2 separate regions of the Homo sapiens genome follow, and region 1 is reported to be linked to region 2. The links are microRNA targets in miRTarBase. Many come from high-throughput screens and were not tested one by one. Region 2 holds a microRNA gene; the other region holds the end of a gene's coding sequence.
The links. The annotated mature microRNA hsa-miR-92b-3p reads UAUUGCACUCGUCCCGGCCUCC and lies in region 2 at 1,306-1,327, opposite strand. An mRNA with a match to its seed (bases 2 to 7 or 8) in the 3' UTR can be bound and repressed. Matches are read on the target gene's strand: a 7mer-m8 pairs with bases 2 to 8, a 7mer-A1 pairs with bases 2 to 7 and ends in A, and an 8mer does both.

Region 1: the mRNA of SYNJ1 is a reported target of hsa-miR-92b-3p. The part of its 3' UTR that is shown has no 7-base or 8-base seed match.

What each region holds. Positions count from the first base shown.
Region 1 is chr21:32,632,105-32,635,104 of GRCh38, reverse strand. SYNJ1 (synaptojanin 1) reads left to right here. Exons shown (of 33, transcript NM_203446.3): 32 at 221-244. The coding sequence ends at 241. Among named protein-coding and RNA genes, the nearest start is that of CFAP298-TCP10L, 21 kb to the right of the region's middle.
Region 2 is chr1:155,193,564-155,196,563 of GRCh38, reverse strand. It overlaps MIR92B (microRNA 92b), which reads right to left and starts at 1,387; the gene lies at 1,292-1,387. It overlaps THBS3 (thrombospondin 3), which reads left to right. Exons shown (of 23, transcript NM_007112.5): 22 at 438-577; 23 at 665-976. The coding sequence ends at 723. THBS3-AS1 (THBS3 antisense RNA 1) reads right to left here and starts at 1,567. Exons shown (of 6, transcript NR_183238.1): 1 at 1,192-1,567. RefSeq lists an enhancer at 1-398 and a silencer at 1,555-1,884.

The sequences.
Region 1 (3,000 bases), not on the chromosome of region 2:
TCAACCTCAGACAAAACTAAAGTCTGGACCCTAATTCAACAAAATTATAAAAGGAATTGGAATTGTCTTTTGAATTTATGTTACAACCTGCAAATATTGCTGCTCTTGGGTTCTGTCTGTAACTTAGAAAGCATTTTGTTGACTGAATTGTTAGGGTTGCTGGTTGATCTCGGATTGTCCTCCTAACTCTTTCCTTTGATGTCTGTTTCCTTTCTCAAAGCAGGAGCAACCATCAGGGTAACAGGTATCTGACAATTTATCAATCTTACATGTGTTTTCATCCGTCTCAACACATTAGATGTATGAATCTCTGCTTCATACATCTAAAGTTTCACCCATTTTTAAAACCACCTGTCTCCATTAATAAATTCTATCATACCATAAAACCTGCTTTTTCTTTTTCTTAGTATTTTGGATTTTAGGAACCATGTAGTTGTTCTTGCTAATGCTTTACCACTTTTTGCTTCATTTTTTTATGAAAATTAACAAAACTAAAAAGTGTAACTTCAAGAAAGTAAGATTTAGGTATATGAAGGCCTTTTTGGCAAAACCAGATCGGTTCTTGGTTTTAACAATGGCATTTATGTAATTACATAAACACAAAATTCAGTATGTTTTTTAGGAAAAAATATTTGGGGGAAATATTTTTTCAAATGGTTTTAGTAGCAAGATTGTTATTGGTAAGGAAGAATTGATGGTTTAGAAAGATGAAAGTTACCAGTATAACAAGATTATCTAAAGGTCCTTCCAACACCTTTCTCTGTAAAAATAGCACCAATTTTAATATTGTCATCACAAATCCTGCTTAGATTACAAATTAATTCTAATGTGATGAATGGTGATGTGGTTGTCATTGTAATTTCAAGTCTGGGAAAAATGATCCTGATTCTATCAAATTAACTTATTTTGAAATAAAAATTTTCTTATATATGCAAATAAAGGTGTTTAAATGTATAGCACTGATGCAGCAGGTGACTTCTGTTCTAAGCTGGCAGAGCACAAAATTCTCCTTTCCTATAATGTCTGTGTTGCAGACGATTCTATCTGCCATAGGAGAATTTTGTCTCAGACAGAAGTATTTCATTTTGTATTAACTATAAATAGTCCAGAGATTTTTGGTAATATAGAGTTAATTTTATAATATCTATATAAATTTCCTTTTAAGTACATTTCCACATATAGGTCTACTTACCTAAGACATTTAGAGTACAGTTTAAAGTCTGTGACATGTTTTCTCTTTAGTTTTGTACAAATTTATCACACTAAGTTTGAAGAAAAATATACTGTTTCAACCAATTATAAAGCATATTCTAGGATAGTTGAATAAAACAGATACTTGAAAGTTATTCACTTAAGTCATCCATTTCCTTTTACAAGTGAACATCCTTCCATATTCTTAAGCAGTAACTAAGTGTTTCATAGTATGCAGTTACATTTTATTGAGACTGCTGCTGTTTTTTTCCAATATATTTCATGAAAGTATAGTTATGTTGCTTTAACAACTATCCAAATTCCTTTTGGGCAGTGCTCATTTTATTACATTGCCAGTCTTGAACTGAATTTTTTTTTGCCCTATCGTATCCAACCCTGAAGTTTTCTTAAGTTAGCATAAGTGTCCAAGTCATCTACCCTAGTTTTAAGAATTATATACATTTTTTTCAAAATTAATAATGTATGCCTGATAAGCTAATTTGCTTATGAGGCAAGAATCATAGTTCTTTTCCTTCATCCGATCATTTGTCTTTGCTCAGTCCCTTGGCTGTGCTCCACTCCAACCACCTTCTTTATGGAGTAGGGACCAAGGGATTTAGGGCAGGAGTGAAGGAATTCCAAGCACTCTTCCTACTGATAACAGTTCACAGCCAACTCTGTCACATAGAAGGGACCAGGCACCACTCTAGGCACATCATTGTGGTTGTAGACTTCATAAACCAAATAGAAAATGGAACTTTTTTTCCTCTGGTTTTAAGCAATGGTTGCATTTGGTTACTAATAGTGTATCTGTTTTGGAATATTTTTACAAGACAGGAGGGTCAATTTTTTTATGGAAAGTTGTCACATTACTCAGTTTTTGTTTTTTGTTTTTTGAGGCGGAGTTTTGCTCTTGCCCAAGCTGGAGTGCGGTGGTGCGATCTCAGCTCACTGCAACCTCTGCCTCCCAGGTTCAAGCAATTCTCCTTCCTCAGCCTCCTGAGTAGCTGGGATTATAGGCGCGCACCACCATGCCCAGCTAATTTTTTGTATTTTTAGTAGAGACAGGTTTCATTATGTTGGCCAGGCTGGTCTGGAACTCCTGACCTCAGGTGATCCACCTGCCTCAGCCTTACAAAGTGCAGGGATTATAGGCTTGAGCCACCGCGCCCAGCCTCACATTACTCAGTTTATTCAACAAAGGAGAGCTTACATTAAAAGTCAGCTGTGCCGGGCATGGTGGCTCACGCCTGTAATCCTGACACTTTGGGAGGCTAAGGTGGGCAGATTGCCTGCACTCAGGAGTTTGTGACCAGCCTGGGCAACATAGTGAAACCCCATCTGTACTAAAATACAAAAAATTAGCTAGACCTGGTGGCACACGCCTGTAGTCCCAGCTACTCAAGAGGCTGAGGCACAAGAATCACTTGAACCCGGGAGGTGGAGGTTGCAGTGAGCCAAAATCGTGCCATTGCACTCCAGCCTGGGTGACAGCACAAGACTTGGTCTCCAAAAAAAAAAAAAAGAGGGGGTGGGCAAAGAACTCTCAAAATTTATTTTTCCAAGTAGAAGACAGAAAGATGGAGTCTTCGTCTTAGGAATAAAATATGCTAATAGAATTAATTTTATCTATAAAATTGAATTTCCATAGTAACATTAATTTTAGAAAACACACTTAAAAGAACAATGAAACCACATCATCATCATAGATGGGTGTTAGAATTTTATTTATATAGATTTAGCATAAGTTATAAGTATGGATTTCTTAAGTTCATGCTGAAATGTGATAGAACTGGGCATGAACAAATT
Region 2 (3,000 bases):
GAAATGGGTCTGCTTAGAGGCTGGACTTTCCATGGCCAAGAGCCCAGAGTCCAGGAACCTGGGTTGGTTCCCCTTTAAGGTGCCTGGGGCTGTGGGGTGCCAGGACAGGGGATAAAAGGGGGTGGACTAGAGCCTGGGAAGCGGGTGACTTCACCCCCCAGCCCATTGTGCTTATTGTCATGGCAACCCAATCCTCGCTTGGAATGCGGCTGGTGCTTTGAGATGCAAAAGGAGCTGGACAAAGAGCTAGGGGCCCCAGGCCTGAGAAAAGCACCCCCCTTCCCTCTCCTTCCTGCCTCCCTTTCCCTCCCTCCCTTCTCTCTCAGGCCTGGTGAGCTCAAGGGGGGCTGGGGAAAAGCAAGGCCCCAGGCATGGTGGCACAGTGCCCACTGGCACCCTAGCACCAATGGATACTCCTATCCTGGAATCCTGGACAGGGTGAAGCTCTATGAGGGACCCCAGCTTGTGGCGGATTCTGGGGTGATCATTGACACATCCATGCGAGGGGGGCGTCTTGGTGTATTCTGCTTCTCCCAAGAAAACATAATTTGGTCCAATCTCCAGTATCGATGCAATGGTGAGGTGGCTGATTGAGATCAACCTAATCCTTCATGCCTTGTGGGAGAGCCACATCCTCTGACCTTACTTATTTCCCCTTCTTCAGACACAGTGCCTGAGGACTTTGAGCCATTCCGGAGGCAGCTGCTCCAGGGAAGGGTGTGAGGAGGAGGCCACCAGATTCAGAATTCAGAATTTTAGACCCTTTGGCCTTGGGGTCCATCCTGGAGACCCTGAGGTCTAAGCTACAGCCCCTCAGCCAACCACAGACCCTTCTCTGGCTCCCAAAAGGAGTTCAGTCCCAGAGGGGTGGTCACCCCACCCTTCAGGGGATGAGAAGTTTTCAAGGGGTATTACTCAGGCACTAACCCCAGGAAAGATGACAGCACATTGCCATAAAGTTTTGGTTGTTTTCTAAGCCAGTGCAACTGCTTATTTTAGGGATTTTCCGGGATAGGGTGGGGAAGTGGAAGGAATCGGCGAGTAGAAGAGAAAGCCTGGGAGGGTGGAAGTTAGGGATCTAGGGGAAGTTTGGCTGATTTGGGGATGCGGGTGGGGGAGGTGCTGGATGGAGTTAAGTGAAGGATAGGGTGCCTGAGGGAGGATGCCCGAAGTCCTCCCAGACCCACTTACTCACGGTGGCAGCGGCGACACTCCAGTCTATCAAAGATCCGCCGGGATGGAGAGCCAGGAGGGCGGGGGCTGCCCCGCTAGGGGTAGCGGGGAGGCCGGGGGGCCGGGGGGGCCGGAGGCCGGGACGAGTGCAATATTGGCGGGGGAAAAAACAACACTGCACCGCGTCCCGTCCCTCCCGCCCGCCCGGGGCCCGGGATCCCGCTCCCCACCGCCTGAAGCCGGCCCGACCCGGGAACCCGGGGCGCGCTGGGGAGTTGGGTTCACCTTGGAGGCCAGAGAGACTTGGCGCCCGGAAGGCAAAGGGAATGGCAAGGGGGAGGGGGGAGGGAGAACGGGAGTTTGCGGAGTCCCAGAAGGCCGCTTTCCGACGCCCGGGCGTTGCGCGCGCTTGCTCTTTAAGTACTCAGACTGCGCGGCGCGGAGCCGTCGCCATGGTGACGCGTGTCCCAGCAACCGAACTGAATGGCTGTTGCTTGGCAATGCCGGGAGTTGAGGTTTGGGGCCGCCCACCTAGCTACTCGTGTTTTCTCCGGCCTGCGAGTTGGGGGGCTCCCCGCCTCCCCGGCCCGCGCTCCCGGGCGCGCTGACGTCAGATGTCCCCACCCCGCCCAGCGCCTGCCCCAGGGTCTCGCCGCACACAAAGCTGCGCCTCGGGCGCCGCGCGGCGCGCGGGCGAGAGCTGTGGTCTCTCGCCTGCTGATCTGATGCGCTCCAATCCCGTGCCTCGCCGAAGTGTTTTTAAAGTGTTCTTTCCAACCTGTGTCTTTGGGGCTGAGAACTGTTTTCTGAATACAGGCGGAACTGCTTCCGTCGGCCTAGAGCGCAGCCTGCGACTGCGGGACCCAAGTTCCACGTGCTGCCGCGGCCTGGGATAGCTTCCTCCCCTCGTGCACTGCTGCCGCACACACCTCTTGGCTGTCGCGCATTACGCACCTCACGTGTGCTTTTGCCCCCCGCTACGTGCCTACCTGTCCCCAATACCACTCTGCTCCCCAAAGGATAGTTCTGTGTCCGTAAATCCCATTCTGTCACCCCACCTACTCTCTGCCCCCCCCTTTTTTGTTTTGAGACGGAGTCTTGCTCTGTCGCCCAGGCTGGAGTGCAATGGCGCGATCTCGGCTCACTGCAACCTCCGCCTCCCGGGTTCAAGCGATTCTCCTGCCTCAGCCTCCTGAGTAGCTGGGGTTACAGCGCCCGCCACCACGCTCGGCTAATTTTTGTAGTTTTTAGTAGAGACGAGGTTTCACCATCTTGGCCAGGCTGGTCTTGAACCCCTGACCTTGTGATCCACTCGCCTCGGCCTTCCAAAGTGTTGGGATTACGGGCGTGAGCCACCGTGCCACGCCCGATCTGCCTCTTAAGTACATAACGGCCCACACAGAACGTGTCCAACTCCCCCGCCCACGTTCCAACGTCCTCTCCCACATACCTCGGTGCCCCTTCCACATACCTCAGGACCCCACCCGCTTAGCTCCATTTCCTCCAGACGCCACCACCACGCGTCCCGGAGTGCCCCCTCCTAAAGCTCCCAGCCGTCCACCATGCTGTGCGTTCCTCCCTCCCTGGCCACGGCAGTGACCCTTCTCTCCCGGGCCCTGCTTCCCTCTCGCGGGCTCTCGCTGCCTCACTTAGGCAGCGCTGCCCTTACTCCTCTCCGCCCGGTCCGAGCGGCCCCTCAGCTTGCGCGGCCCAGCCCCGCAAGGCTCCCGGTGACCACTAGAGGGCGGGAGGAGCTCCTGGCCAGTGGTGGAGAGTGGCAAGGAAGGACCCTAGGGTTCATCGGAGCCCAGGTTTACTCCCTTAAGT